4 linked regions of the Homo sapiens genome follow. The protein of the gene in region 4 interacts with the protein of the main gene of each other region in a pairwise test. Each region holds a gene or a part of one and is shown on either strand. Other genes may lie near its edges.

Region 1 (9,276 bases), on a different chromosome or scaffold from region 4:
AGGGCTCAAGTAGAAGCTGCAGTGTCTTTTATAACCTAATCTTGGAAGTGGCATGCCATCACTTCTGCCATATTCTATTGGTCACAAAGACAACTTTGGTACATTGTGGGAGGGGACACACACAGAATGTAAACACGAGGAGACAGGGATCATTTTAGCAGCTGTATTAGTTTCCTAGAGCTGCTGTAACCAATTATCCTTGGTGGCTTAAAACAGCCGAAATTTATTCTTTCTTCGTTCAGGAGGCTGGAAGTCTGAGATTAAGGTTTCAGCAGAGCCGTTATCCCTCTAAAGCCTCTAGGGAAGAATTCTTCTTTGCCTCTTCCAAGCTTCTGATGGTTGCCACAATCCTTGGTGTTTCTTAGCTTGTGGCTGCAAAACTCCGATCTCTGCCTTCATCTTTACATAGTCTTCCCCGCATCTCCTCTGTCTCTGTGTCCTCTCCTTTTCATACAAGGAAACCAGTCATATTGAATTTAGGTCTACCTTCATCCAGCATGACCTTGTCTTAACTAACTACATCTGCAGAGACCTTATCTCCAAATAAACTCACAGACTGAGATTCCAAGAAGGATGTGAATTTGAGGGGGACACAATTCAACCAGTACAGCAGCCTTCTTAGAGACTGGATCCAATGCCTTGGAATCCCAGGGGCTGTGATCCTTCTAGGAAAGAATTACCAGATGATTTTTGTTCTTTAAGTTCCTTACCCAGAGATTCCAGCCACACAAACTCAGCACAGCCTCCTCCTCAGTGGCTTTGCTGAGATCTGTTTCCTGATCACTACTACAACCAACCAGAGCAGCAGAGCTCGATTCAATTTGAATTTACTCTGGGGAAGTGGAGGCTGAGGACAATCAGAGATGATGTCTACTCTGCTTACCTCAAGATTAATTTCTTTTCTTATTTTTATACAAGGAATTCATCTTCATTGTAGAAAAATTAGGAAATACAGGTAAATTAACAGAATTAAAAGAAAAATCACCTATACTGCCACCACCCTGACATTGCTACAATTGAAGTAAACTCTTCCAGACTTTTTTCTATAAAGAAATATATAAATAGGTATCTTTTAATTAAAATAAATTGCAATATATGCCACTTTGTAAGTAGGTCTTCTCAATATGTCATGAGCACTTTTTCATGGGAATAGAGACCAGCATCTGGGATTTTGATTGTATCTTGGGTTTTTAAAAGAGGATCAGCATACCCTACTTATCTTTTATCTTCTGAGCTCGAGCCATTTCTTCTGACATCAGCACCTCCTCATGCCCACAACAAGATGATGAGGGAAGAGATAGGAAAGGTAGCATATGACAGTGGCAGGATTAAAGGGAAGGAGGTGGGGCTGGGCCAAGGGCCATAGATCCCTGACTCTATGACCACCTCCCTCTCCTGCATAGTGGTGAGTGACAGGTCTTCATGTGGAGAGCTACTGACCCTATAAGGCTCAACTGGGGATGGGTTGGCCTGCGGGGCTCAGGGTAACACTGGTCAGTTACCATTAAGCAGGAATGATTCCCACCACTCCCCCACCCCACCTCCACAGAAATCTTTTCATGTTATTCCCAGTTTACCCCACATGGTTTTTACAAGATTCCACAGCAGTAGCACCATCCAGTGGGGGAGGACCGTGGACTGAGCTCCAAATCTCAGAATTTATCCAAACTGGGAACCAGAAGACAAAGTGGTCAGGTGCCCACTAAGTCAGACGTGGGGGTCCTGAGAGCAGAGAGAGTGATTGTCCGCCATGGGTCTCCTCCACTCACCCCTCACCCGAGCTGGCTCTGCCCAGGGAGTTCTGGGGGGCACGTTGCCCTAGTCACACTGCTGGAAGTAGAAGTCTGTGATGGGGGCATTCCAGCCACCATTCTCGGGAAGCTGGGTGAGTCTGACAGGCTGATCGGCTTCAGGCACCGTGCACAGGAACCAGCCCGGGTAGGCAGCCGACTCGAAGCTGGAGGTGAGCCCCATGTCCCGCCGGTAGAAGGTGAAGCTCTTGGATTCCTTGGCACCAAGATAGAGCTCCATGATGTTCACTGGCTGCCGGCAGAGGAGGGGAGGTCAGGTGAGGGCAGAAGCAGGGGCAGAGGGAGGGCTGGGCAGGATCCTTAGGGAGGAGGCAAAGCTGCCATCAACAGAATCCTGCTAGGGTGTCCCACAGCACCAGGGCTGTGGGCTGCCCGGCTTCAGTAGGCTCAGCATCTGTGGCTGAGTCCCCAGTGAGGATGCCCCAAGTCTCACCTCTAGTGTTAGAGTCGGCTCCTGCCCCACCCCACATGACAGGCACTGGCTTCCACCCTGGACACCCAGGATGACGGGGGACAGGCTGGCATCCAGCCACCGATTGGGGACCACGCTGATCTCTTCACCTGTGGGAAAGAGGCCAGATGCAGGGCCCTGGATGCCTTTCCCTCCTTCTTCCCCTGTCCTGGGCTCTAGGGCACAGGACTGCTGTAAGACGGCCTGCCCCCAGGCTGGGCAGAAGGGAGGCTTCTCAGCAGCTGTCATGACATGGCTTCTCCTGTCCACTGGCTCAGAGTGGACATCAAGGCATGGAAGCACATTGTACCACCTCCACTCCACCCTCTAGTTCAGGGTCAAATCTTCAAGCCTCTACACCCCAAAATAGATTCAACCCCCTCCTTTAATGTCCCTTGGGTCTCAGGCCTTTTTCTGAACCCTGTCTTGATAAGCCCCCCTTTGGAATTGTTTGGACAACTTTCTACACCCTGTGATGTTGCTGAGAGCAAAAGAGGGTCTCATTCCTCTCTGTACATCCCCTCACCACCCACATACATCAGATACATACATACACAGATACATGCATGCACACATATACATATACACACACATGCTCATACCTACATACCTGCACTCACACATACATGGTTACACACAGATACATGCATGCACACATGCTCACACATATATGCCTGCATGCACACATACATACACCAGTAAGCACACACATACACATATGGCCTAGCTGAAGGATCTACCTGGCATCTGTGCTCAGCAAGGGTGCCCCAGGTGGGCAGGTGCAAACTATTTTAGAGAGGGACGTGTTGCAGTGCATGGGGCAGAGTGAGCAAGCAGGAGGTCCAACAATGCCACCTGTTCTCTGGGTCCCTCCACTCTAAGTGACTGAGGATCTTCAGAGAGCAGAGGGGACCCAGGGTGGAGAGGCAGAAACCCACTCCCATATGGGAAAAAAGGTATAGAGAATCTACGTTAGTTCTCTCCTTGGTACTTACTGGCTCCCAGGGAATGCAATGCTTGACCTAAATCTACCTGTAAGGGAATGACAAGACAAGCCTCTTGGAAAACATTCCCACTTCTGCATAGAAGCTTCAGGTGGCCCCAGAGCCTGTGTCTTCACTTTGCTGAGAGGTGTAGTATTTTATTTGCCTTTGCTTAGAGCCTGGTTTGTGCTGCCCCAATGCCTGGGCTCTGTAGGCCTATGCTAATCTGTATGACTATTCTAAGCCCTCTTCAGGCCCCCTCCCCTGAGAGTGTATAGAGACCAAGGAAAGTGGGTCATGTTTCATCACCAACCTTTAATGACCTTCCCTGCATGCAGCCCTCCAGCTAGAAGCTGGTTATTATGCAGATAAAGCACCTTCAATGCCGAGTCCTTCATTCTGAAACATCAGGAAGGGGTGAGGACTACATTAGGAGGAGGGTGGACACTCCAGCATGCCCTGGATCCAGAGAACCCCCTGATCTCAGGCATTTTGTCTCTCTTTCTTCCTACTGTGCCAGAAGTAACAGCACAGCCTTGTCTCCCAGCCCTGCTGGGCTCATGCCCTACAAGGAGGATGACCCCACAGTCTCCCACTGGAGTCTGTGGTTTGCTCCTTCACCCTATTCAACCTTTTCTGCCCCAACCCATCTCCTGCTGGAAGAGAAGCTGCACGGTGAGTCAGAGCCCTAGGTTCTTGCCCCATCTCTGCCTCCAATGCTGCTGAGTCGCAGGAGACAACTCTCTCGCCCACTCTGGGCCTGAGCCTCCCCATTGCTACACTAAGATGATGGGTTGGATAACATCCAGGCCTCTTCCACGTTAAAGCCTGATTCTTCAATTCTTCAAGATACATGTATTTCTATTTGGTCATATATTCCTTACTAAGTGAGGAGTTTCTTTAAATTTAAATTTCTTTTATTTAACTTTTCAAAGTTGTTTCTCATCTTTGAACTCAGTTGATTTCCTGGCATCCTATGAGGTGGAAGATGTATCCTAAAGTGGGTTTCTCCAAAAGTTATATGGGGGAAAAGGATGCAGTGTAAAAATTGGGTCGATGCATGGCTAAATACAATTCAACAAGTTGCCTTACTTCAGAAAACCTCAGAGTCACTCATATGCTGAGCTGGGCTGTGGTTCTCTTATGAGAGGATGTAGAAAGCAGAATTCCCTGCATTTACTTGATCAGAGAGCTCCACTGTGTAAAGCATCTCCTGGATGCCTCTGTGGGACTCCTCTAATCGAGTCCCATAGAACACATCATGGGAAGTGCTTTATTAGACTGAGAGAAAGGACCACTCTCATCCTCTGTTGTAAAGCCCAGAACACGGCAGAGTGTCTGGCTTGGTACATGCCAGTGGGTGGACAGACTGACTGATGGTAATGGTTTTTGTTTTATTATTATCCCCAAAGAGTAGCAGGGAGGCAGGGGCACAGAGTGGGTGAGCTTACATCCATTCACTGTGATGGGGGACAATGGCGGAGCTCTGAGCAGGGATCCTGGCCCCCGTTCCCACCTTGGATAGACTTGGCTGGAGCTCTAGACTGGGAGGTTCACTTATCCCCCTCAGCATCAGGGACCCCTTGTGAGATGGCCTGCCCCAGTCCTGCCCCTATTTGAAAAAGGCTGGGAAAACTCTAAGAGCAGTGAGGTGCTGGTCACAATTTCCCAGCTGCAATGGCAGCCCCTCCCTTCCTCCCTCCTGCTCAGAGCTGGACAACGGGTCTATCCAGAACTCACTTCCTCCGGAGGACACCACCAAACCAGGGCCTCATACACTCACCGGAAGCACAGCGCCCCACTCAGGACCATCTTGAGCTCCACAGGGTGTAGACTCCCCTATTTTGGAATAAACAACAGAAAATCATGGAGAGAGAGGCTGAGTTGGCTGGGGTCTGGGGAGCAAGCAGCTGCACCGAGCTCCCCAGCATGTGAACAGCCTCCACGGAGCAGATTCTGGGTCTGGGGTCAGGAGAGAGCTCCGGTACCACCAGCGCCCCAGAGCATACCTCAGAATGTTCCTTTCTCCTGGCGGGAGCTGTGGAGTCTGCCTGTTCCTCCAAGGATGCCTCAGCCTTTTAAGTAAGGCCTAGGGAGGGGCCCTGAAACTGCCAGGACCTGAGGAGGAGCAGGATTCCCAGCGTGATTTCACATCACCCTAAGTCGCCAGAAGCACTTGCTGCTCATTATCTGTCGTGGGGAGGGAAGCTTCTGGAGACAGTTTCCTTCCAGAAATATTGAAGAACTTCCTTGAGGCTTTCCAGCTCTTTGTGAGCACTAGGCTTTTGCATCTCAGGGGCTTTCAGACCCTAAGAGTCAGTGCCCATGGCAGCTCAAGGGAAGCGCGACTTTCTTTCCTCCCTGCCTCCCTCCCTTTCTTCCTTCTTTCCATCTTTCATTCACTCACTCCCTCCCTTTTCCCTTCCTTTCTTCCCTCCCTCTTTCCTTCCTTTCCTTCTTTCCCTTCCCATTTCCTCCCTTCCTCCCCTATTCCCTTTCTTCCTTACCTTTTTCACTCCTTCCTTCACTCCTTCCCTTCTCCCTCCTTCCTTCCTCTGTCTTTCCTGCCTGCCATTGCCAGGCCTACAGGAGATGTTAGAGGTGGGACTCTCCTGCTTAGGGAATGTTCAGCCTACATGTTCATTGTAGAAAAACCTGAAAATCCAGATCAGCCACAAGAAAAAATGTGAATACTTGTCTTTTCTGAGTGCATCATCAGAAAACCAATGACAACACTATTTCCTCCACACACATACACATGTAACTATAGACAGCTTTCATACAACAGATTCACAAAACCTATACTTTTTCCAACCTCATTTTTTCATGTGGCAAAATAGCAAAATATCTTTCCATACTAAATATGAATAATGACATGCTTCAATAGCTGTATAGTATTTAACTGTATCACTGTAACATTATTTATTGAAACCTATCCACTGTTATTTGTCTTTTATATATTTTTCTCTCTTTTTTTGCTATTGAAAACCATGTTGTGACAAACATCTTTGTATTAACATCTTTGCTCATGTATCTGGTTATTTCTTTAGAAAGTAAAATCTAGCTCATGCCATCTATAATTCTGTAAGTGATCTTTCTTGAATACCTAATTGATAAGATAATACTTAATTGTGAAACAGTTAATGCAGTTTAAATACCTCCATGCACTCTCTGTGATGGATCTGAAATAAAGGTAAGGGTCAGTGCACAAAAAACAATTTAATTATATCTTGAATAACACAGATAACTATTTATTAATAATTTATTGTTAAAGCATACACTTTTTTTTTAAGTTTTATTTTTCTTTTTTCTTTTATTATTATTATTATACTTTAAGTTTTAGGATACATGTGTACAATGTGCAGGTTTGTTACATATGTGTACATGTTAAAGCGTACATTTTAAAGAAATGGTATTCAGACATATGAGCCAAGAGGTCCTACAAGTGTTCAAGAATAAATAAAATATCAAGTTGTTCAAAACACAGAAAATAATCTACGATTTTCATAATGCCACTAATATGATAGACACTTTTCAGAAAAATAAAATTAATGTAGAAACTGCCTTGTACAAAATTATTAAATTACAAATTGACCAAATGGAATGACAGTAGAAATAAGATGAAATGAGACAAGCCTGGCCAACGTGGCAAAACCCCATCTCTACTGAAAACACAAAAATTAGCCGGGTTGGTGGTGCACATTTGTAATCCAAGCTACTCAGGAGGCTGAGGTGTGAGAATTGCTTGAACCTGGGAGGTGGAGGTTGCAGTGAGCCAAGATTGAGCCACTGTACTCCAGCCTGGATGACAGAGAGAGCTAGACTCTGCCTCAATAAATAAATAAATAATAAGTAAAATGAAACTATGACTGTGTATACTGTCAATATTATATGAAAACATTATCAAACAGGCCTCACCAACAATAAGTTCTCTCTGGACCTATCCCTTTGCTTGACTTACTAATTAGGTCTCAGACTCTGTGAAATTAGCCATGAACTAAGAGAACATTGATAAATTACACATTATTCCTGTCTGATAGAAAAGATAACTCCAAAGGGTGCAGTTTTATTGCCTCACAAGTCATAAAGCTGTCTTTAAAACGTAACTTAGCCAACCTATTTCAGCCTTTATTTCTTGACTGACGGTATAAGCCTCCATTCCCTGAATTATCTTTTGATAATCAGCTTTATAATCTTGCTGATTCCCTCACTTATGAAAAATAGTAAATCTTTGACACATGCTCACTATATGTGTGTATGAGAGTCAAGTTTTGAACTTCTGAAAAATAAACTTTGGCACTACCTAAAGACAATGCTGCCAATTCGCAAACCATGTGTGGCTGTTTTAAAATATGTCCATAAATTCTTGGAAACTTCATCTTTAAGAAGGTGATATGGTTTGGCTCTGTTCCCACCCAAATTTCATCTTGAATTGTAGCTTCTATAATTCCCACGTGTCATGGAAGGAACCCAGTGGGAGGTAATTGAATCATGGGGGCAGGTCTTTCTTGTGCTGGTCTCATGATAGTGAATAAGTCTCACAAGATCTGATGGTTTTATACAGGGGAATTTCCCCACACAAGCTCTCCTGCCTGCCACTATGTAAGACATGACTTTGCTCTTCTTTCATCATCTTCCACCATGATTGTGAGGCCTCCCCAGCCATGTGGAACTCTAAGTCAATTCAACCTCTTTCCTTTATAAATTACACAGTCTTGGTTATGTTGTTATTAGCAGCATGAGAACAGACTGATATAGTAAATTGATACTGGGAGTGGGGCGCTATGTTACATGATGAACATGGCAGCATCATAAAAGGCATTGCAATTTCCTCCTAGCTCTTAGATCACTCACCTGGACAAAGCCAGCCACTATGTGATAAGGACACTCAAGCAGCCCTATGGAGAGGCCCACGTGGTGAGAAACTATTTTTTCCTGCCAACAGTCTGTGAATGCACAATCTTAGAAGCAGATCCTCTAGCCCCAGTCAAGCCTTCAGATGACTGCAACCCTGGCTGACATCTTTCCTGTAACCTAATGAGACACCCTGAGCCAAACCCTCCAGCCAAGCCAGTTTTCTCATTCCTGACTCTCAGCCTTTGTTAAATAATAATTTTTTCTTGTTTTAAGCTGCTAACTTTGCTGATACTTTGTTACACAACAATTGGTAACTAACACACCTTGACATCACTATTGGCATTTCAGCACTTTAACACTTTGCCTGTTACCCAGCAATTTGGAACTGGGTAAAAGGCAGAGGTTGGAACAGTTTGGAGGGCTCAGAAGAAGATAGGAGGATGTGGGAAAGTTTGCAACTTCCTGGAGACTCACTGAATAGCTTTGACCAAAATGCTGATAGTGATATGGACAATAAGGTCCAGGCTGAGGTGGTCTCAGATGGAGATGAGGAACTTGTTGGGAACTGAAGCAAAGGTGACTCTTGTTATGCTTTAGCAAAGAGACTGGCAGCATTTTGCCCCTGACCTAGAAATCTGTGGAACTTTGAACTTGAAAGAGATGATTTAGGGCATCTGGCAAAAGAAATTTCTAAGCAGCAAAGTATTCAAGAGGTGATTTGGGTGCTGATAACATTCAGTTTTATGTATTCACAAATATATGGTTTGGAATTGGAACCTACATTTAAAAGGGAAGCAGAGCATAAAAGTTTGGAAAACATGCAGCATGAAGATGAGATAAGAAAAACCTATTTTCTGAAGAGAAATTCGAGCTGGCTGCAGAAATTTGCATAAGGAAAGAGGAGCCAAATGTTTTTCACCAAGAAAATGGGGAAAGTGTCTCCAGGGCATATCAGAGGTCTTCACAGAAGCCCCTCCCATCACAGACCTGGAGGTCCAGGAGGAAAAAATGGTTTCATGGGCCAGACCCAGGGCCTGGCAGCTTTGTGTAGTCTCAGGACTTGGGATGACTTGCATCCCAGCCACTCCAGCTTTGGCTAAAGAGGGCAAAGGTACAGCTTGGGTCATGGCTTTAGAGGGTGTAAATCCCAACCCTTGGCAGCTTCCATGTGGTG
Region 2 (8,770 bases), on a different chromosome or scaffold from region 4:
TACGAACACAGTCCCGTCCTAGAGTTATAGTTATGCCTAGAGTCACCACATTTGGCCATTGACATACTGTTTTCCATTGCTCTTTCCTGCTAAACTGCTTTCATTCAGCAAAGCTCTGCAACCACACGGGATCCCTGCGTGTGATGAAATATGATGTGATGTTAAACGTCTCTTCAGGAGCTCCTCATTTTTCTCTAGTGATCTATAAAGTTAAAAATTAATAATAATTATTATCCTGCATATTAGCTGTGACCTGAAACATAGCTTTGTATCATGTATTGTGAAAAAAAAATGACAACCTCATTCCTCTTTGTCCTTAATAATAGAATATGAATGGCTGAGAAGCCTTCTCCATATTGTGATAGTTGTGTTTTGAAGGGGAGGTGAGGAAGTAGTGTGTGCCTTCTTCCTGCATCCCATGGGCATAACGCAGAATACGCACTTAAGTAGGTGTGTGCACATTCAATGTGTGTTAAGTGTGATTCGGCTAAACCAGGGAGTGGCAATACTGTTCTCAATGTTGTCATATTGTCTTTGATTCATGCCTTTGAACATGTCCAGAGGGCATGACCAGGAGAGTAAAGGATTTGGAATCCATACATAGTGAAATGGTTGGACATTGACTCTATTTAGCCCAGAAAAGGGAAGATTTAAAGAGGATTGGTGACTGGCCTCAAATACTTGAAGAACTAGTGATCTGTTCCATGTGGCCCCAGATAGTAACGCTACAATTGGAGAGTGGAGCTCCCAAAGAGGTATGTCTAGACCAATATAAGCAATAACTGCCAACTAGAGGGAGCTGGCTGGAAGCAATGAGTTCCTCATCCCAGGGGACTTCAAGGGGAAGCTTGATGGCAGCTCCTCTGATGATATTAAGTTTCTTCCCTCTAAGACTCCTGAAATCTAAGGTAATGTGAAGTGGTATAGATGACTTACAGGCAGCTGACCCAGCATGTGCACTACATGCCCATGGGGAAGGGCATGAAGGGAGAATTGCTTGTTTAGTTAAGCTGGGATCAGTTGGAAAGTGTTTCTCTCTTGTAATTCATTTGAAAAGTTCTCATTGCAAGGTAGGATTTTTTTGTTGTTGTTAACAGCTACTTAGAGAAAATACGGTAAAAGCCCAGCTGGTAGGTAATGGGAGGTCATAGATGGGGAAAAAACTCAAAAAAAAAAAAAAAAAGAAATGGTTGTACAGTATGGATGTTAAATAAACTTGCCTGATTAGAGTGAAAGGAGTCAAGGAAAATTGGGTCATCAGTAAACAATGGATCCACATGGAAGGATAGGAAGAGCCATAACCATCTTAATGCCAAGTTACTAATCCCGTGAATAACCATAGCTACCCTCAGTCCCCACCCTATAAAGGGGTGTCATCACCTACTCTAAGTTCTTCTTGGTGCTGAGAATAGAAAAGGTAAGTACAATTTATGATGGGATTGGATACACTCCCCAAGGTCTGTGTTCAGTAAACATCTCTTCACTGGTTTTCAGATAACTGCTTGGGAATTCAATGCACTCTGAAATTCATATTATTTTATATGTCCTTTCCATTAAATTTTAAAGCAACAAATATTTTCAATATCATGAATTGACTGTCACACCTAGTGAAAAATACATTTCCAAGCAAATTCTTGTTAATAAAAAAATCTTTTAGTCCGGGTGTGGTAGCTCACGCCTGTAATCTCAGCACTTTGGGAGGCTGGGGCAGGCAGATCGCTTTGAGCTCAGGAGTTCAAGACCAGCCTGGACAACATGGCAAAACCCCATTTCTACAAAAAATAGAAAAATTAGCTGGGCGTGATGGCTCACGCCTGTAGTCCCTGCTACTCTGGAGGCTGAGGTTGAAGAATCACTTGATCCAGGAAGCAAAGGTTGCAGTGAGCTGAGATCGTGGCATTGCATTCTGGCCTGGGCAACAGAGTGAGACCCTGTCTCAAAAAATAATAAATAATACTAAATAAATAAATAAATAAAATATTTTATTGACATAAATATAGTTGTAAATGCCTTCGCTCCATAATAGAAACCCATGCCAGTTTGTGGTGCTTGGGTGTTGTATTTTGAATTTTTCTATTACACTCAAAGGCTAATTTCCCCTTAAGATGATTATAACAAATAATTTTTGATTTATCATATCTGAAGAAAGAAATGATAATACATGATATTAAGTCATTCAAACCATATGAAGTTTAGGTAGGAGAAAAATGTATTCTTAGTGGGAACACAAAGTCTTGACTCCATAAATAGCAATTCCTTTTCTCTGAGATCTGGTTTATACTTTCATTTTTTAAAAGTCATCCCCCCACAGATAAGTCTAAAGCCTGAAAAGCTAACTTTAATATTGTAAGTTCAGAGGCTGACTCTTGGAGGTATTAAATTAAAACTTGCCAATGCCCTTGTTCAGAGCTCTTCACATAGGATGATATTCTGCACACACACGTGCTCCAGTTATTTTTGCTTCAACATGCGAGTAACATTTTGATAGAAGTGTATGTCCAGCAAAGAATTGCTGCTAACTGATTCAAACCAGAAAAAAATTCACGGAAATACCCTCTGGTCACAGAAACAAAATTATTATTTCAATGAGAAGAAAGTTCCTTTGTGATTTTGGACATGGCATATTACCTTCCTACCATCTGTATTTCCTAAATTATTGCTATTAGACTGAATGTTAAGAAGGCTTCAATTGGCGAAAGATCCACCTCTGACTAGACCACACCGTGCATAGAACCAGCTATTGTTTGACAAAATAGAAAGGACCAATTTTAGTAATTCAGAGAAACTAACTCATGCCCTTCTAAAACCAGATCAAATAATTGTTAAGTCTTTAGTCTGATATAATAATTATCTTCAGGCCAAACCTGACTATCTGAACAGAAACAGATATTTTGCCACCAATGCACCTCACCACTGCCTACAGTCTGTTTATCATTAGAGAAACAAAGATGGTCAAGTGACATCCCTAGAGTCTGATCATAATTCAGAAACAAAGGTAAGGCTCTTTCCCTGCTTACTTGTCCAGCCCTGTCTTCCTTAGACCACCCCACATTTCCTCTCCTATTCAAAGATAGAGTCTGGAGTGTGCTAGTATAAAAAATCAGCTCATCCATCTAATAGAAAAATACACATTAGGAGAGAAATGGGAAAATATGGAATAGGAAACAGTTTGTAAAAAATCACCATCTCTTAGATAGAAACCCTTTAAGAGGCCATTGTTGAATAGGTAGTAACTCCCAGGACAACTGAAGGGGGTAAAATAATATCCTCTTGGTCATCAATAGGTAAAATTTGCCTTTACATTTTGTACATTCAATTCTAAAAGTATTTTATTTAATTAAAAGGAAACCTTCCAATTTTCTACCACTAAAAATCGGGAAAGTGACAACAATTGCCTTTGTTGTTCGAGGTGTCCTCTGGTCTTGGGTCCTGATCTGCCGAAAATTCCCTCCCTGCCCCCAGGCACATTGGTTTTGTAAATGCCTGAGTGTGGCACCCTGTGGGAAAGATGAGGCTTTGTATGAATGCATTGTTAAGGCAGGTCTTGGGGAACCGTGCACGGGGACATAATAGCAGACTTCTGATCTCTAGTTTGCATTGATCTTACATTTAGACACAGATTCAGAAGAACAGACCCTCCCTTTTCCAGTGCCTTCGGAAAGATTGCCGCTCCGTAGAATGAGTCCTTTCTCCTCCACCCTTAATCTACAACCCAGCTTCCCCGGGAGATCCTACTTTGATTTCCGATCCTCACCCCACCAGCTGAGCTTGCATTCCTCTTTACAGTCTCTCAATGCACCGGGTGAGCTGAGCTCCTCAGACCTTTCCCCTTGATCTCTGTGCCTTGAAGGCATCTCTGAAACGCGTGTCTTGTTCTTGCCATTCATGTGCGTGGTGAGGGGGATGAGCTAGTCTCTGTCTGTGGCCTGCTTTCCGTATGAGGAGCATCGGGATGGTGGAGCTTTGTGGCGTTCTTGTTTGTGTGGTGGAAGGAGCAACCATGGAGCTGTGGTCCATGTATTACGGCATTAGAAAGTGATGAGTGAAGTTATTCTTTTCGCACAAGCTGGTACCACCATGGATAACCCGCTCTGTCATCACATGCAGTGGCATAGCACGGCACGGGCGCTGGCTGAGTGGCGGCCATGGCAGTAATGTGGAGGTTTGCAGCCCTTCTGTATCCAGGAAACCAGCAGTGTCTGGGAGACTGGATCAGTGCATCCAGCCTGGAGTGGTCTGATTAAACATAGACTCAAGAGATCTTTATTGACAAAGTACAATAAAAGTAAAAACACACCAACAGCAGAAAGCATCCTATAAAGCAGGCAATCCAGAGAGCAGAAAGTGAAAGCATTTTCTGCAAAAGCCTGTGCTCACTGCTAGGACAGTGGGGCTCATGGCTGAGTGTTTTCCTAGCAATGGGGTGGGATCACTGCTAGCCGAATTAGAAACCCTTAACTCCTAATGCCTAATGACCAAAGATCTGAGTAATCAAAAAGTCTGGACTCCTCGAAGTTTCCCACAGCCAAGCTGGTTGTGACAGAGCCTAAGGCTGATTTCAGCAAAGCTAGACTTGTGTTCCTTTGTAGCGAACACTGCCTAGCAAATAGAATGTTAAAATATATAAGATGCAGACCTATTTGATCTCTTCAGGACTATATTGTAATCATGGATACACATGATGCACATTTCATATTTCCAAAGGTTTCTTTTGGTTTTTATTTTATTCTTTTTGCTCATCCCACATTCTGGAATGAAGAAGGCCACAGCATGACAGTGCAAAAAGGATGCAGGGACTTCAAGCTGTCTTTAAAATGACATTCTTCTTTGTGCTTTTATGTTTCTTATTGTTTTTCTGTGCACTATGGCTTCCCAACATGCTTTGTTATGAAACTCTTTTCCCTTGTGTCTAATGTACTGAAATATCGTTACAGTCTTTGTAATGCACATTGTCTCAAGAATAAAATGAAATGTGAGTTTTGGGATATTTGATGGGTGTATTTAAGAGCATTATTCTAGCTGTATTGTTGAATCTTAAATGTATGATAATGTATTTAAAGTAGTGTAAAAAGATTTCAGAATATTTGTTTTGAAAAAGAGTTGCACAAGGCATGATTCATTTAAAAGTTTTTAAAGCCCTATTCAGATTCTACAAACTTATTTCCAAGCTGAATATGAGAGTCGGTTTTAAAACTCCAGGTATTCCATAGTCACTATGCTCTAACACATGAATAGGAATTGAAGTGATAATTGATAGAAACAAAACATAAAAATCAGCCATGAGATGGGAGGAAACGATTCTTTTGCATGTGAATTCATCCCAGAGAAAAGCAAACTAACCAAAAGTAAGATCATAATTTTTATATTTTGTTTTTAACTCAGCCATTAGTCCTTTTTTATAGTAAGTTGCTTTTTTAATTCTTGTAAAATTCTTTTAAGTCAGCACATTATCCTGCAAATGTTTTAGGAATTAGCATATAAAGGCCTTACTAAATAGAAAAGAAAATAAAATGATCCTTTCTTTATCCCCCAGTGTTCATCAAAACCACATTTTCTAGATCAGTCCTTGAAACCACTGGAAATTGTAGGTCACACACTTTTGAACATTTTAAGACTAGGCAGTCTTCCTCCACACAATGTAATTTCTCATGGGGTACAGGTATCCAAATCTTAAGGAAGGGAGATGGTTGAAAAAGTTCCACAGGGGATTCCAATGTATCTCTGAGACCACACCCACTCCTACCATCCCTCCTCCCCTCCCTCAGGTGAGAAGGATCTTGTCTCCTAAGAAGGAAAGGAGGCAGTTTTAACACATTCGTCATGTCATTATTAATAATTATTAATAAGATGTATGTATTCACAAATGGATTACATTACACATTTAGTTATATTTAATTTGGGCTCAAGTCACAATGAAGACCTTTTGGCATAACCAGAGTTAGAAGTGCATAGAATAGTGAGAGCAGAGTTTTATCAAAATCCAGTGATTTCTCCGTTGCAATTAAGTACATTTTCCCCATTTTTAAAACAGCTAGCCTTCTTACTGTGGAAACTTTAGAGGAAAAGATTGAACTTGGAAGATGAAAAATTCAGCTACAGAGTTTAGGATCAATTGGAGGAGGATTTATTAAATGGTAAAAAGATGTGCTTTTCATTTTGAAAGAGCAGAGGGGCAGTTTTTTACCCAACAAACTAAATAATATAAAAAGGGCTTTGTTTTTTCATGGATCAGGCCTCTGGTATCTATATTCAACTGGTGCTTTTTAAGCGTATACAAGTAATTTTTATCAACCTGGTTGTTGTTTCATAGCGTTGATGTGTAGTATCTCTTTATAGGATGCAATTTTGAGACACAATCTGCACCTTACTCTCAATTAGGCAAGTATACCTATTGTAATTATCTTTTACTTACGTGATTGGTGTGCTCAATTTCCTTCACAAAATAAATGGCGGCAACTTGTCTTATGTCAATAAAATTGTCTAATTGTCATTCTAACCCTATTATAGCAGTTTCTCAAACTCTTAAAAAATGGAAAAGATGCCTGTAGTGTTTAATGTTATGCCTCAAACCTTACTTTTCCCCCAGTTTTCTTTTACATCAGTGCAAAGCACTCTTTATGAGCACTAAATGTGGGTAAAGGTACAAGTCAGAGAGCACCTGTTTAGTATATGTGGCATTTTAAATTGAGTCCTTTTGGGGTACTAGTCTATCAAGAGAGACACATTTTCTTATCCATGTCAATTTTGCTTCCTATCTCTCTCCCCCATGCCTTTCACTTGGAATGACAACAGTTGACATTAAAAAGCTGTTGGCAGGTATGGAATAACCTTATTCTGTTACCAAATAGCAAAGACCAAAGTGCATGTGAGGTGTCTCACAGGTTTAATAAATCAGCAATTACATCTCTCGAGTGTGATATTTATAGGTGGCATTTAGAACTTGGGGCGTAACAATGCGTACAAAGACATCATTCTATCTGCACCTAATGTCCGAAATTCCTACTGCTCCAGCAAAATTTCTGACGTGTTAGTTTCAGGAGTAGCACGCAAACTGTGTTTTTTAAGTTATGCAGACAGCAACCTGTCCTACATGCAAGTCACAATCACTCATGAAAATTAGTTTATGTTGCTTATAGCTTCGCAGCTTGTGAGCTTTCACTAGAGCCGAGGAAGACTTCAAAGCGACTAGATGTTAGCACTTCTGCCGAAGGGATATTTCCTGATTTCACTCCATGTGTTTTATCCCTCCTCCATCTAGGACTCTAGCTCCTAGCCTCCCCGCCTCAGGGGTTACACAGGCATCTTAGCGCATCCCCTCTCCCTTTATGTCTCTGGTGCACTGTTCTGCCAGTCACCAGGTGAAGGGACTTGCACCTTCCAAAATCGATGCCACTTCACTCCCGGATCACCTGGTTGGGAGTGCAGTCTGAGCCAGGTAACCCCTGCTGAATCGGTCGTGTGTCCTCCGTCTGCTTCTGGTGCAGAGAGTACCAACTCCCAGGACGTGCCCCTGTCTGCCCTGGCCCTGGACGCCTCCTTCCTGCATGGCAGCATGAAAACGCTACACAACGCTCCTCACCCGCCCAGGAGTATGTTATGGTGCTGAGCTTGTTGGGTCTGTCTTAATAACCTGATTCCCTTCTGTTGTTCCCAGTGGCCTGGTTTGCTTTCGACCCTGGCTCGGCGCACTCGGACATCATCCTCTCCAATGACAACCTGACAGTGACCTGTAGTAGCTATGATGACCGGGTGGTGCTAGGGAAGACTGGCTTCTCCAAGGGCATCCACTACTGGGAGCTCACGGTAGATCGCTATGACAACCACCCTGATCCTGCCTTTGGTGTGGCTCGCATGGACGTGATGAAGGATGTGATGTTAGGAAAAGACGACAAAGCTTGGGCAATGTATGTGGACAATAACCGGAGCTGGTTCATGCACAACAACTCGCACACCAACAGGTACCCTGCAGCCCCCAAACCAAGCCTTCTTCACGTTGGCTTCTGATCAGGAGTGAGAGCCCCAGTTCAAAAACCTATTACATAGACCACATTCAGGAAATCAAACAGGTGGTCTACATTAAGTAGCACAGGCAATCTATGAGCCTCAGCTGAGTCCATGCTGGTGGTTTACTTTCTATATAATGATAGAGACTTGAGTACTTTCCTACTCCCTTCATTGCTGTATTTCACCCATGGCTGGAAACTAAGAATCCCAATGGATATCCATTATAAGAAAACAATCCAGGATGCTGAAACACCCAGACCTACAACTTAACAGAAAAGCACTTTTGGGCAAGTTACTTCGTTTTTTGAACCTCAGTTTCCAAATCCATCAAATTAGTACAATAAAATTTTTCCTTGTGGGAATCTTCTGAAGATTAAATGAAATATGTGAAAATGCCTTACATTGGAAGCACCTGAAAATAGTAGCCATTCTTCTTATTACGATTCATTAAACTAAAGCTTATGGATGCCAATTTGAATGGCTTTCTACTTATAGAGAACTCTCTTATTACTGTATTAATCCAGAGCAGCCAGTTTGCTAAGGAAAGGAAATACAGTAATCTCCTTGAGGTTTTCTTCTACCACCAAAATATAGATCATTATAATTGAACACATACTATAATGGATTTCCTTTCTCATTTGATTGTGTTCCTCAAATGTATTTTTCACAAATTTCCTAGGCAGAGAAATTTCTACTGTGGACCCTGGTCCACCTTATGCTCCAAGATTTCCCCAGGATACATTCTCATTAGTGTCTCTGAAAAAAA
Region 3 (6,352 bases), on a different chromosome or scaffold from region 4:
GTATGAATGGCATGCAGGGAAGGAGCAAGCAGATGGGGGTCTATATGACTCATTTTGATGCGTTTTCTACCAAGTGGTTGAGCTGGTGCCATTGAGGGCAGAACTAGGTTGTAATGTGGCCGTTGTCTTGAGATGCTGTCCGGGTGGAAGAGTTCTGTTGAAGGCATACTTTATGTTGTAAATTGACTGTTGTCTCTTAAGGCAATCTCCTGGTGGGAGAAAGTTCTGGTTCTAGACCCTCTAAGTAGGTAGATAAGTTTGCCCTGTAGGGACTATCTGGTGAAGGGAAGGTAATGGTTATAATTACATTTCTAAAGAGCTAAGTAGAGGCAGGGCACAGTGGCTCACACCTGTAACCACAGCACTTTGGGAGGCTGAGGCAGGCGGATCACCGGAGGTCAGGAGATCAAGACCAGCCTGGCCAACATGATGAAACCCTGTCTCTACTGAAAATACAAAAATTAGCCAGGCGTGGTGGCAGGTGCCTGTAATCCTAGTTACTAGGGAGCCTTAGGTAGGAGAATCGCTTGAACCCAGGAGGCCGAGGTTGCAGTGAGTCGAGATCACACCACTGCACTCCAGCCCGGGCAACAAGAGTGAAACTCCATCTTAAAAAAAATAAAAATAAAGAGCTAAGTAGGAAGTGGGAGACAGGAGAAAAAGGGGGAAAATCTTAAAAATAATTCATTCTCTTTCTCTTAGAAAAATGCTCTTTTTCTTAGAAAACTCAGTCTCTGTTACACGTTTACAGTTATAGCAACATTAGTCACAATAGGCAACACGGAAACAATCCAAATGTCCATGGAAAACTGTTTGGCCTTGTTTATGAAAGCTGAATATCCACATACCCTGTGATCCAGACTTAAAAAACAACAACAACAACAACAAAAAAAACTTCATGTGTACATACATGGTGTAATGCAAAGAGAAATGTTAATGAGAGTTTAAATCACTACAAACTTTGGGGAGGATAGTTTTGCAATATGTATCAAAGACCTTAAAAAAATACCCATTGACCCAGCAATTCCTGTTTTAGGAGTATATTCTACAGAAGCAATCAGATACGTAAAAATGTAATTGTATTAGTGGTTTCAAAAGCTTTTTAAACGGAGGACTAAGTTATGCGTCCAAACATCAAAATTTTAGAATCTCCACTAAAATGCTCTTGTGAAAGGATATTATGATGTGTCAAAATGCCTCACAAGTAGATCAATCAATTTTAAAAAGCAGATTACCTAACGTCATGTATGGTGTGACACCAATATTAAGAAAAGCTATAAAAATTAGCCGGGCGTGGTGGTGGGCGCCTGTAGTCCCAGCTACTCGGGAGGCTGAGGCAGGAGAATGGCCTGAACCTGGGAGGCGGAGCTTGCAGTGAGCGGAGATCGCGCCACTGCACTCCAGCCTGGGCAACAGAGCGAGACTCCGTTTCAAAAAAAGAAAAAAAAGAAAAAGAAAAGCTATAAAGCAGCAAGGGGAGGGGAAAGATAGGAAGTACACACACCCTAATGTTAACAGTGATAGGATTAGTTTTAATTAAATTTGTATTAATTGGCAACAAATTTCACGGCACAAAATACAGACAGTATAAGGGATGTGCAGCAGAGTGATCTCTTCTTCCCCTTTCCCCAAGACCCCGCCCCAGGGGCAGTCGCGGTTTAAAGGGGTCTGTCACCCCTTCCTTGGGCCATTTCCGCGCTTCGCATTTTGTGATTTGCACGTGCGTTGGTGGGTTCCCGGGGGCGGGGCGCCGCGCTGGCCCCGCCCACCAGGTGCGTCCCTTGTCTCGCCCCCTGCAGACGCGCGCACGCCCACGCTGGATCCTGACACGATGCACGCGCGCCTGCGCCTGTCCGCCGATCGCCTGACGGTGCGCTGCGGCCTGCTGGGCAGCCTGGGGCCCGTGCCCGTGCTGCGGTTCGACGCGCTCTGGCAAGTGCTGGCTCGTGACTGCTTCGCCACCGGCCGCCACTACTGGGAGGTTGACGTGCAGGAGGCGGGCGCCGGCTGGTGGGTGGGCGCGGCCTACGCCTCCCTTCGGCGCCGCGGGGCCTCGGCCGCCGCCCGCCTGGGCTGCAACCGCCAGTCCTGGTGCCTCAAGCGCTACGACCTTGAGTACTGGGCCTTCCACGACGGCCAGCGCAGCCGCCTGCGGCCCCGCGACGACCTCGACCGGCTCGGCGTCTTCCTGGACTACGAGGCCGGCGTCCTCGCCTTCTACGACGTGACGGGCGGCATGAGCCACCTGCATACCTTCCGCGCCACGTTCCAGGAGCCGCTCTACCCGGCCCTGCGGCTCTGGGAGGGGGCCATCAGCATCCCCCGGCTGCCCTAGGGGCCAGGACCGGCGTGACAGCCTCCAGGTACGCCGCAGCTGCCCAGTCTCGCCTAATCTACCTAGATCAGCGTGGCTGGTCCCCTTACTGCCTGCTTCTTAGGGCCCTCTCCCTGCCCCAGCTTTCCCCGACCAATCACGCCTACAGTGCTTTGAAGGTTTCCTCTCCTAGGCTAGTTTCAAACAGGCCCTAAACAAGTCTGCTGCTGCCCTCTCATCAGACCTCCGCACCCTCACCCCACCATCACTTACACTACTTTAATCCAGTTCCTTCAAAGTGATACCCCCACAGGTAAGCCCTCAGCATCCTGAATACATCATCCGCAGCCTGGGAACCTTCTCCCTCGTACAGCACAGGAACCTGACACATAGTAGGCACACAGTAAACGTTTGTGAATGAATGGGAGTCATCCAGTCCTGACTCTTCTGTCTCTTGAGGTCCCTTGAATCTTCCGCTTCCTCCCCACCGATTTCAGCGTGTCCACATCACAGCTCCCTCCAGAAGCTGCAAGAGCTTCTTAGCAGTTCCTGGTCTGAACCCTCTCCCAGTCCTCATCTTCCACCCTAAAACTAGAGTGATCTTCCTAAAACTTCACTTAACCCCTCAGCTATGAAAAGGCTTCCAGGAGTTTCCATGAAATAACAAAAAAAAATACAAGCGCCTCACCTTAGCATTCAAGGCTTGTCTAGTCTGCCCAAAATTACTTATCCTCACCTAGCTCCTACCACTCTTCTTAGAGACTCTCCAGTCAGAAATGTGTCGCATAGTTCCACCTCCACACCTCTCTGCTGCCAGCACATTCATGCAGAAAAGTCTTTTCACCTGTCTCAGTCTTCCGCAGGCTTACCTGCGCCAGGAAGTCTAACCAAGGAACAAGAATCTCACTATCAGAGCCACAAATCTGGGACCTGTCTTTCCAACTAAATTGGAGGCTTTGGAAGGGCAGCTTTGTCCTATACTCTCTCCACCCTGAAAAGTTCCCAGAAAGCCCCTTCCCTCCCAAGCAGTGAATTAATAACCAGCAGGTGCCTATCACTGAGTAACAGAAGAGCTGAGTTAGGCGGGCCTCACAGGTCACCCAGCCAGATCTCATCTGGGGAGTCTGAGGTCCTGAAAGAAAGCAGAGCTGCGTAAAGTTACCCCGGGGTGATATAGGGGGGCCAGACGTGTGCCCCGTTCACCCACCCCCAGGCAAGCATCTGACCTGTCCCCTGGCCCAGCCCTTAGGCCCAGCTTTCAACCTGCTTACTCATTTCTCAGGGGATTTTGGGAAGGAATCAGCAGGTGACAGTTGCTAAGCAACCAAAGGGGGTGGTGTTTCCCAACTGTCTTGGGACAAAAAGGGTAAGAGCACCCTTAGATCCAGATGTTGCCAAGGAAACCCAGAGTGCCCAGCTGTCTGGAATGAAGTGACAGAGGTAGAAAACAGTAGGCCCTCACAGGAGGCCACCTTCGCTAGCAGGGAGTGGGAGGCTTCTTTCCAGGGATTTGTGTCTCCGTTCTGAAGGTTCTGCGTCCTGTTTTGTCAATTCCCTAGACGGTTTTGAAGTTATATTCTGTTAAAGCATCTTCATAGGTGCTTGGTGGGAGGCCAAGGTCGCCGAATCCTCGTGGTTTAAATAGACTTTCAGTGCATTAGTTTGAACCATATAAAACTGACAATTTTCAATAGTTTTTGAGTTAAAAATGGCACTTTTGATATGAGACAATGTAGCAGAATACCAGGCAGACAGAACCTTGCAAACACCTTAACTTCTAACCAAAGACTTTAAAACTCTGGCTGGACAGAGTTTTAAGCACTATGCTGCAGGAATCCTGAGAAAAAGGGGAAATTAATTCTATTAGGAATGGCCCAAACTGAATTGTGACAGGCAGAGGGTGTTCCTGACAGAGGGAAGATGAATACACTTGACCCCAACATTTCTGCCCATCCCTGATGACCAAGACCTCTTCCCAGACCCACAGCTGCAGGGGCCAAGTAATAACAGCTCTTAATAGTTTATAATGCACTGTTTTAATGCTTTACGACTAAACTCATCTGATCCTTTCATCAGCCCTAGAGGGTAGAAAGTTTTCCCAATTCTACACATGGCAAAATGGAGACCCAGAGTCACTTGCCCAAGGTCGCACAGCTAGTGGTGGAGCTGGAGTCTGGGCCCAGGCTGTGAGTTCCAGGTCTGTGCTCATGGCCACCAGGCCCTACTGCTCAGGGTGAATGCAGCTGGTCTCTGGCCAGTGCCTGGTGCTCTGGCCCCTCTCGTGGAGCTACTGCCCATGATGCTTTCCTAGTGCCTGGTTACTCTGCGAGACTTGAGTCTACCTTTGGACTGCCTTCCTTGGGGGTCTGAGATGAGGCCTTATGGCCCAGAGGGGAACTTGATTCAAAAATTTGGGATTCATGTAGCAGAGACAGAGCTAGACTGTAAAGGTCACAAACTAGCTGTGTCAAGGCCCGTGATAGCCAGAAAGCGGCAGTTTCAGTCCATATCAATTGTGTGACCAGGGCTAGTCACTTTTTACTTCTCAGTGCCATCTATAAAATGGGGATAATAGCACTACCTACCAAGTGCTGTGAGGCTCAAATGAGCCAAAGGTTATAAACTTGCCTTAAAACTATAGTCCTATACAAAAATTAGCTGGGCGTGGTGGTGCATGCCTGTAATCCCAGCTACTAGGGAGGCTGAGGCAAGAGAGTTGCTTGAACCCAGGAGGCGGAGATTGCAGTGAGCTGAGATTGCACCACTGCACTCCAGCCTGGGGACAGAGCAAGACTCTTGTCTCAAAAAAAACAAAAAAAACATATATACTGCTGTATCATGCCAGGATTTATCAGCATTCCCAAGGGAGCTTGCACGGTACTGACCGAGTGCTGAGACTACTGGTATTCCCAGCTGCCATGTGGCAGCAGCAGGAGCTACTAGAATATTCTCAGCACAGGAATGAGGCTTCCTTGGTTTCCATGTCTGTAAGGGTTACTGATCACTTACCTTCTTCTCTTTCAGACTTGAATCTGTAGACATTTCTTTATTGATATGGCAAATTGCTTGCAGATATTTTTAAATGACAGCAATTTTCTAATATTTGGTTTAATAAAATGTGAATAATGTCCCTTTTAACCATGGTCTTCACTGGGAGTTCATGTTGCTTCAAGTCCCTAGCACCCAGTGATACCCCCACAGGTAAGCCCTCAGCATCCTGAATACATCATCCGCAGCCTGGGAACCTTCTCCCTCGTACAGCACAGGAACCTGACACATAGTAGGCACACAGTAAACATTTGTGAATGAATGGGAGTCATCCAGTCCTGACTCTTCTGTCTCTTGAGGTCCCTTGAATCTTCCGCTTCCTCCCCACCGATTTCAGCGTGTCCACATCACAGCTCCCTCCAGTTCATGTTGCTTCAAGTCCCTAGCACCCAGACCCAGAAGGGCCTTTACTCATATCTTATTCCTTACGCAGCCTTCTGGTAGTAGTCAGCTGCTCCCTGATTAACTATCTCCAGGGATGGGGCATTCACTGCTTCTGAAGATAACTCATTAAAGTTCTCACTTACGTGTAAACAAACCCTGACTCCCACCTGTTCCCATCCAAGATCGTATTATAGCTTGAACTCCTGGTCTCAAGCAATCCTCCCACCTCAGCCTCCTAAGTAGTTGGGATTACAGGCTCACACAAGCACGCCTGGCTCACATACCACCTTCTAACATATTGTGTGACTGAATCACTATGCTATGGATTTTTATGCATCTGCCCCCATCTGAATGGAAGTTCTCTGAGGAAGGGATTGGGGCTTGTTCATGGCCATATACTCTGTGCCTAAAGCAGTGCCTGGCACAAAGATGGCCCTCAATATTTGTTCAGAGAAGGAACACATGCCATTTCCCTCTCTTTGCTCTGAAAGGAGTGCTTTCAGCATTTTCTGCCTACAAGATCCTTTGACCAGTCCTTTCTCTGATGTGGAGTGACTGCTATACAATGCCAACTAAACACAGAGGCCAAGGGCAGGAAAGGGATAA
Region 4 (7,898 bases):
GTTTTGTTTTGTTTTTTTTTTTTTAATAGAGATGAGGTCTCACTATGTTGCATAGGCTGGTCTTAAACTCCTGAGCTCAAGCAATCCTCCTTCCTCAGCCTCCCACAGTGCTGGGTTTATAGGCATGAGTTACAATGCCTAGCCCATTTTTAGTATTTTATAGCTATAGTGGATAGAAATATAATTGATTTTTATATTGACTTGTGTCCTGCAAGCTTGCTGAACTAAATTTATTAGCTCTAATAGGTTTTTTTTTGTGTGTGTGTGGATTCCTTAGGATTTTCTATATATAAGATTGTATCTTCTACAGATACAGTTTTACTTCTTCCTTTCCAATTTGGAAGCCTTTTGTTTTATTTTCTTGCTTAATTGCCCTGGTTCAAACCTCTAGTACCATGTTGAATAGAAATGATGGGACTGGGCATCCTTGTTAGGTTTTGTTATTAAGGAGAAAGTGTTCGGTCTTTCACCTTTAAATATAATATTAGCTGTGGGGTTTTCATCAGGTTAAGGAAATTTTTTTTTTTTTTTTTTTTTTTTTTAGATAGTGTCTCACTTGGTCACCCAGGCTGGAGTGCAGTGGCGCAATCTTAGCTCTCTACAGCGTCGATCTTCCTCCTGGGCTCAAGCAATTCTCCTGCTTCATCCTCCTGAGTACCTAGGACTACAGGCAAGTGCCACCATGCTTGGCTAATTTTTGTATTTTTTGTAAAGATGATGTTTTGCCCTGTTGCCCAGGCTGGTCTCAAACTCCTGAGCTCAAGCAATCCGCCCACCTCAGCCTCCCAAAGTGCTGAGATTACAGGCATGTGCCACTGAGCCTGGCTGAGGAAGTTTCTTTTTGTTCTTAAATGGCTTTCTTTTTTTTTTTTTTTTTTCGTAAAAGGATGTTGGATTTTGTCAAATGCAATTTCTGCACCTTTTGAAATGATTGTTTTAGTTCTTATTGTATATCATGTTGATTGATTTTTGTATGTTGAACCAGCCTTGCATTCTTAGAATAAATCCCACTTGGTCAAGGTGTATAATCTTTTTGTGTATGTTAAATGATATTTAATGTATAATAAATTTAAACCTTTCTTTGCCCCAACAGAAAATGATCCACAGTCTATTTCTCATAAACTGTTCCGGTGACATATTTCTAGAGAAGCACTGGAAGAGCGTTGTGAGCCAGTCTGTCTGTGATTATTTCTTTGAAGCTCAAGAGAAAGCTGCTGATGTTGAAAATGTACCACCTGTCATTTCAACACCTCACCACTACCTCATCAGTATCTACCGGGATAAGCTCTTCTTTGTATCTGTCATACAGACCGAAGTGCCACCTCTCTTTGTAATTGAGTTCCTACATCGAGTTGCTGACACTTTTCAGGTTGGTTATCTATCATACCTTTCTAAGTTAAATGACCCAAGTTAGCTGAAGGTGAGACATGATTATATTATTTAATTACCCAGGTTTTGATGTTTACTGTCTGTCTCTCTCTGTTTAAGCGTAAATTCATAAGCCCTTTTCTGTGTGGTATACAGTTACACACATGGCTGCTCTATTCACTATTTTTTATATGTATTACAGATTACAGTTGGCTCTCCATATACATGGGTTCTGCATCCATAAAGTCACCCAACCTTACATGGCAAATATTTGAACAAAAAAATCGAACTGAACATGTACAAACTTCTTCTCATTATTACTTGAACAATACAGTATAACAAATAGTTACATAGCATTTACACTGTGTTAGATATTACAAGTAATCTAGAGGTGATTTAAAGTATATAGGAGGATGTGTATAAGTTATGTGCAAATACTATGCCATTTTATGTCAGCGACTTGAGAATTGTGAACTTTGGTATCTACAGGGGATCCTGGAACTAATTCCCACAAATACCAAGGGATGACTGTATATCATCAGGAAACAATAATGCCCTCCGCATACAGTTCTCTCAATGGTCTCAAGATTTTCATTGGTTATGAACTCTTCTATATTTACATTTTATTATTTTGTCTTGCGGAATATACCAAATAATTTAAGCTTATCTATATGTATTTTGGGATAATCAGGGTGAATGAAGTTTATAGCTCAAATTCCAATTTAATGTTTCAATACTTTCTGGTATAATATGTAATAGGAATTAAATTCAACCTAGAAATATCAAGAAAATATTGAGGAATAATATTAGGACTATAGAGGGGTTTTTTTTGTTTGCTTGTTTTGTTTTGTTTTGTTTTGTTTTGTTTGAGACGGAGTCTCACTCTGTTCCCTAGGCTGGAGTGCAGTAGCATGATCTTGGCTCACCGCAACCTCCGCCTCCCGGGTTCAAGCAATCCTCCCGCCTCAGCCTCCCAAGTAGCTGGGACCACAGGTGTGCACCATCACACTCAGCTAATTTTTGTATTTTTAGTAGAGACAGGGTTTCACCATGTTGGCCAGGCTGGTCTTGAATTCCTGACCTCAAGTGATGCATCCGCCTCAGCCTCCCAAATTGCTGGGATTACAGGCATGGGCCACCATGCCCGGACTATAGAGGGTTTTTTCCCCCGCTCTGTTTTATATATGTTCAGCAGCTTAAGCAATGAATTATGCTACTCTAAGTTTATTCTTCAGAACAAAAAGTATTTAGCAGGCCTTTCTTTTTGCCTTCCATTGTGTGATATTTTGTGTGTATTTTGTCAGGACTACTTTGGTGAGTGTTCAGAGGCTGCAATTAAGGATAATGTGGTCATAGTATATGAACTCTTAGAAGAAATGTTAGACAATGGATTTCCACTGGCTACCGAATCTAACATTTTGAAAGAATTGATTAAACCACCAACAATTCTACGCTCTGTTGTCAACTCTATTACAGGTAAGATGAAAACATACTGTGCTAGTAACTGAGCAATTAAAACTTTGTAAACAACTCATTATTGCTCATGATCTGACATATTATTAAGGTAGTACAATTTGGCCATAATTAAAGTTACTGGTAAAGTTAAAATGGATGTACTATATATTTATTTTCATGGAAAGAGGCTAGACCTTAAGTGATAAAGAACTTTTGGTTATTACTCTTTTTTTTTTTCTAAAACACCACAACAATATTATTACCATTATTTAACACTAAATACTAAGACTGAATAAATTGTTCCAGTTATTCCTAAAGAAGCCAGTATATGAGCCCACTTAGAAGAGAATTTAGTCCATTTATAGACTGGCATTTTAATATTTAAAATAGCATTACATAACTGGTATGCTGCTACTCCACAATTACTAGAGAATAGAAAATTTAAGACGCTTAACCACACAGTACTACAATCTCCTCCAAGTCTTTGTTTTTATGCATTCAGAAGATGTATTAAGAAAAAATAGGAAATAGTTTACTTATGAGATCTCATGCATTGTGGGCCTGTACTTGTGTTGTAAGCTTCCAGCTGGGTTTAATTCTTGAGTGTAGCTAGAAATTAGGCACATCCAGATACCAATATTCTTTCGAAAGCATTAAAGTCTTTTAGACAAAGATTCCTATGAAATGTTATATGCCACTCCAACTCCACTGTCAACCATTGTAAACCCCTGTCCAGTGCCTTGACCTAAAAATGAGGTGAGAGAGGCCTATAAGAAAAAGATCATTCAGCAGCTCTTTATTCATCCTTTGTGTAAGGACGAATGTTAGGAGAAATTCAAAGAAAGATAAGATGGTGTGTCTGTACTCCTAAAACTTATACTCTGAATGGGACATTGGAAAAAAAATTAAGTAAATAACTGTATAAGACTTTAAAAAGCAATTCCATACTTCACAGATAAAGTAATAGCATTGGAAAATAAATACACATGATGTAACGTTAAATTGAAAAGTCAGCACAAAACTGAAAAAAATTATTCTTATATATAAATATTCACTCCGACAAAAAAGTATTTACAATGATTATACCCAGCTAAATACAGATTATATTTATTTTTGCTTTATACTTTCTAATTTTCCAAAATAAACATGTATTTTATAGTCAGAGAAAAGTTACTAAAATATATAATGCAAAACATAACAGATTCATTAGATAGTGTATTACAAAGTTCAAGAGAATGGTTCCATTAATGAAGTAATCCCTCCTGAACTGTGGTGGGTGGCCACCTTGGAAAATCAGTAGAATTCAGGAAGTGAGGAAGGAATAAGAGCATTCTCCATGGTGGAACTGTATGAGAAAAAAACACACATGAAAGAGAAAAACCTAAAGTTTTATTAATCCCTTTAGCAGAAGCAGAACTGTTTTTCACTTGAGAAGTTAGAGATCAAATTAAAAAGTAGAGAAAGTCCTTCAAAGCTAGGATAAATATTTAGCTTTTATCATAAAGCCAGTGAGCAAACATTGAACGTTTTTGAGCAGGAAGATAACATGATTATAGGTTGCAGGTAGGAACACCAATCATAAGTAGACTGCAAAATTGTAGATACAGTATGATTGCGACTATATTTTAAAGTGCAATTAAAAACCAAAATTATCAAAATAGAAAAAAATGCAACCTTCTGGTGGTGGAAATATTCAAAGAAATATACCAAAATGTTAATATTATATTAAAATGTTAATACCATAATATTAACAAAAATGTTAATGGTAGATATATTTTGTTAGTAAGAAGACAGGTGTTTTTCTTTAAACCACTTCTCTGAACTCTACCTTTTTGTTGTTGTTAAGTATGTAGTACTTTCGAATGGGAAATATAAATTAACCAAAATATTAAGTAAGTCACAGCTCAAAGATATGTGTTTTGGACAACCAGACTTATTTTTAGGCATGTGTCAGTTTACCAGGAAATGAGCTGGATACTGAATACTAGCTATATTGCAGCCGTATGGGTATGCTGACCTTAAAATAGGAAAAGGCCAGATTCCATTTACTCCACTGAGGCGTGCTTGGCAGCATCTCATGTAAAATAAAGTTGAATACTGAAGGGCCTAGTTATAACTCTGTATTCTCACTGGAGACATTTTATTGGCAGAAGGTTTTGAAACAACCAACCTCTTTTTTCATCAGTGGCAGAGATTCTGTTGTTGAGCCACTGGAATTAGATTAGATTACTGTTAACACACAGGAGGCAAAAGATAAGTAAATAAATTTAACCTGGTTTGGCAGGTAGACAGAGGGCCACATGGCCTATATTTCTTTTCTAGAAATTTGATCATGTTGGTATGGATATGTCTGACAATTCTAGTGACCATCCACAACTTCATTAAGAAAAATCCAAACATTGAAGAAGCAGCTTTTTTTTTCCTAGTAATAAATTTTCTCATGACTGTTTTATACATCAGCTTTGCCTTCTCCTTTTTTGGTTTCTAGGCAGTAGTAATGTTGGGGACACACTCCCCACCGGGCAGCTGTCCAACATACCATGGCGTCGGGCAGGGGTAAAGTACACAAACAATGAAGCCTATTTTGATGTTGTTGAAGAAATAGACGCAATTATAGATAAATCAGGTAATTGTGTGCATGTCATCTTATTTGGGGAAAAACAATTCATCTGACACAGATGAATAGAAAACTGAAGTCCTGGCCGGGCGCGGTGGCTCACGCCTGTAATCCCAGCCCTTTGGGAGGCCAAGGCAGGCGGAACATGAGGTCAGAGTTCGAGACCAGCCTGGCCAACATGGTGAAACTCTGTCTCTACTAAAGATACAAAAAATTAGCCGGGCATGGTGGCGCGCACCTGTAATCCCAGCTACTCGGGAGGCTGAGGCAGGAAAATTGCTTGAACCCAGGAGGCAGAGGTTGCAATGAGACAAGATCATGCCATTGCACTCCAGCCTGGCTCTGTCTCAACAAAAAAAAAAAAAAGAAGAAGAAAGGAAAAGAAAATTGAAGTCCTTTGGCAGTATGGTTTCGGTGGAAAGGCATTCATTATCTGATGATTTTTAAATCTGTTTGTTTATTTATTTATTTATTTGAGACGGGGTCTCACACTGTTGTCCAGGCTGGAGTGCAATCACATGATCTTGGCTCACTGGAACCTTCACCTCCTGGATTCAAGCGATCCTGCTGCTTCAGCTTCCCAAGTAGCTGGGATTACAGGCATGAGCCACCACACCTGGCTAAATTTTTTTTTTTTTTTTGAGACGCAGTTTCACTCTTATTGCCCAGGGTGGAGTGCAATGGTGCAATCTCAGCTCACCGCAACCTCCGCCTCCCGGGTTCAAGCAGTTCTTCTGCCTCAGCCTCCCGAGTACCTGGGATTACAGGCATGCACCAGCATGCCCAGCTAATTTTGTGTTTTTGGTGGAGATGGGATTTCTCCACGTTGGTCAGGCTGGTCTCGAACTCCTGAACTTAGGTGATCTGCCCGTTTCGGCCTCCCAAAGTGTTAGGATTACAGGCGTGAGCCACCGCTCCCGGCCCTGGCTAATTTTTTGTATTTTTAGTAGAGACGGGGTTTCACAATGTTGGCCAGGCTGGTCTCAAGCTCCTAACCTCAAGTGATCCACCTGCCTTGGCCTCCCAAAGGGCTGGGATTACAGGCGTGAGCCACTGCACCTGGCCCATAAATCTGTTTATTTTGCCCATAGGTTACATATAATTTTCATAACCACTAGTTGAGGTCTGCCAAACATGTAAATCAGAACTCATAATGCCTTACTTTAAGCCAATTATTACCCTATGTACCTCTACCTCTTGCTATTTATTCCTTCTAACATTTATTGAAAATCTGCTATATACCATGCTTTTGCTACTACATTATGTGCAGTACTTCTGGTAAAAGCCCCTATCTGATTATTTTTCACTTTCTTTTTTTTTTTTAAGTACAGGGTCTTGCTCTTTTGCCTAGGCTGGAGTGCATTGGCGCAGTCCCTGCTTACTGTAGCCTTGACCTCCAGCTCATGTGATCCTCCTACCTCAAACTCCTGAGTAGCCTATAGTCCCAGCCAATCAGGAGGTACACGCCACACGCCACCATGCCTGGCTAACTTTTATTTGTTTTTTTTGTACAGACAGGGTCTCACCATGTTGCCCAGGCTGGTCTTGAACTCCTGGGCTCAATCAGTTTACCTACCTCAGCCTCCCAAAGTGCTGGGATTACAGGCATCAGCCACCACACCCAATCTGATTATCTTTTTAACCAGACAAAACAATAGTACTCTATAAGAATCGTAAAATTTTATTATTAAAAATAGCAGCCGGGCATGGTGGATCACGCCTGTAATTCCAGCACTTTGGGAGGCCGAGGCAGGCAGATCACTTGAGGTCAGGAGTTTGAGACCAGCCTGGCCAACATGGTAAAACCCCGTCTCTACTATAAATACAAAAATTAGCTGGGCGTGGTGGCAGGCGCCTGTAAACCCAGCTACTTGGGAGGCTGAGGCAGGAGAATTGCTTGACCCTGGGAGGCAGAGGTTGCAGTGAGCCAAGATTGCACCACTGCACTCCAGCCTGGGTGACAGAGTGAGACTCCATCTCTAAAAAAACAAAAAAAGAAAAAAGAAAAAAAATCTAGTCCTTCCTTTACATTTATTTTACACATAAGGAAAGCCCAGAAGGGTTAAGTGAACTGTTCCAGGTCACACAACTTGTTAATATGTAATGATGGCTTATTGTGAATTATAGTCAATATCTTCTCTTCCATGAGTCCCCTTTTCATTATAACATTCCATCTTATAGAATAATAGATTTTTGCCAGGCACGGTGGCTCACACCTGTAATCCCAGCACTTTGGGAGGCTTAGGCAGGAAGATCACTTGAGCCCAGGAGTTCAAGACCAGCCTAGGCAACATAGCAAGACCCCATATCTATCAAAAATTTAAAAGATTAGCTAGGCATGGCTTCCTTAATCCTACCTATTCAGAAGGCTGAGGCAGGAGGATTGCTTGAGCCCAGGAGTTCAATGCTGTGGTGAACTATGTTCACACCACTGTACTCCAGCCTGGATGGCAGAGGG

Evidence for each region.
Region 1: the proteins of AP3M1 (region 4) and IL36RN interact in binary tests that used the Homo sapiens proteins (3 or more experiments, as listed by UniProt).
Region 2: the proteins of AP3M1 (region 4) and TRIM9 interact in binary tests that used the Homo sapiens proteins (3 or more experiments, as listed by UniProt).
Region 3: the proteins of AP3M1 (region 4) and TRIM14 interact in a two-hybrid assay, tested with the Homo sapiens proteins (one large-scale study listed by BioGRID).

The regions. Positions count from the first base shown.
Region 1 is NC_000002.12:113,055,220-113,064,495, reverse strand, and holds the start of IL36RN (interleukin-36 receptor antagonist protein), read right to left. Parts: upstream 5,299-9,276; 5' UTR 5,255-5,298; intron 5,085-5,254; 5' UTR 5,058-5,084; coding exon 5,029-5,057; intron 3,645-5,028; coding exon 3,559-3,644; intron 2,373-3,558; coding exon 2,245-2,372; intron 2,044-2,244; coding exon 1,819-2,043; 3' UTR 1-1,818. UniProt on the Homo sapiens protein: Inhibits the activity of interleukin-36 (IL36A,IL36B and IL36G) by binding to receptor IL1RL2 and preventing its association with the coreceptor IL1RAP for signaling.
Region 2 is NC_000014.9:50,980,988-50,989,757, reverse strand, and holds part of TRIM9 (E3 ubiquitin-protein ligase TRIM9), read left to right. Parts: intron 1-3,591; exon of another isoform or gene 3,592-3,613; coding exon 3,614-3,802; coding exon of another isoform or gene 3,803-3,834; exon of another isoform or gene 3,835-6,336; coding exon 6,337-6,378; exon of another isoform or gene 6,379-6,476; intron 6,477-6,792; coding exon 6,793-6,816; intron 6,817-7,258; exon of another isoform or gene 7,259-7,435; intron 7,436-7,654; coding exon 7,655-7,958; intron 7,959-8,770. UniProt on the Homo sapiens protein: E3 ubiquitin-protein ligase which ubiquitinates itself in cooperation with an E2 enzyme UBE2D2/UBC4 and serves as a targeting signal for proteasomal degradation.
Region 3 is NC_000009.12:98,083,453-98,089,804, reverse strand, and holds the end of TRIM14 (tripartite motif-containing protein 14), read left to right. Parts: intron 1-1,799; coding exon 1,800-2,335; 3' UTR 2,336-5,452; downstream 5,453-6,352.
Region 4 is NC_000010.11:74,131,578-74,139,475, reverse strand, and holds part of AP3M1 (AP-3 complex subunit mu-1), read left to right. Parts: intron 1-544; exon of another isoform or gene 545-670; intron 671-1,093; 5' UTR 1,094-1,096; coding exon 1,097-1,369; intron 1,370-2,672; coding exon 2,673-2,844; intron 2,845-5,311; coding exon 5,312-5,449; intron 5,450-7,898. UniProt on the Homo sapiens protein: Part of the AP-3 complex, an adaptor-related complex which is not clathrin-associated. The complex is associated with the Golgi region as well as more peripheral structures.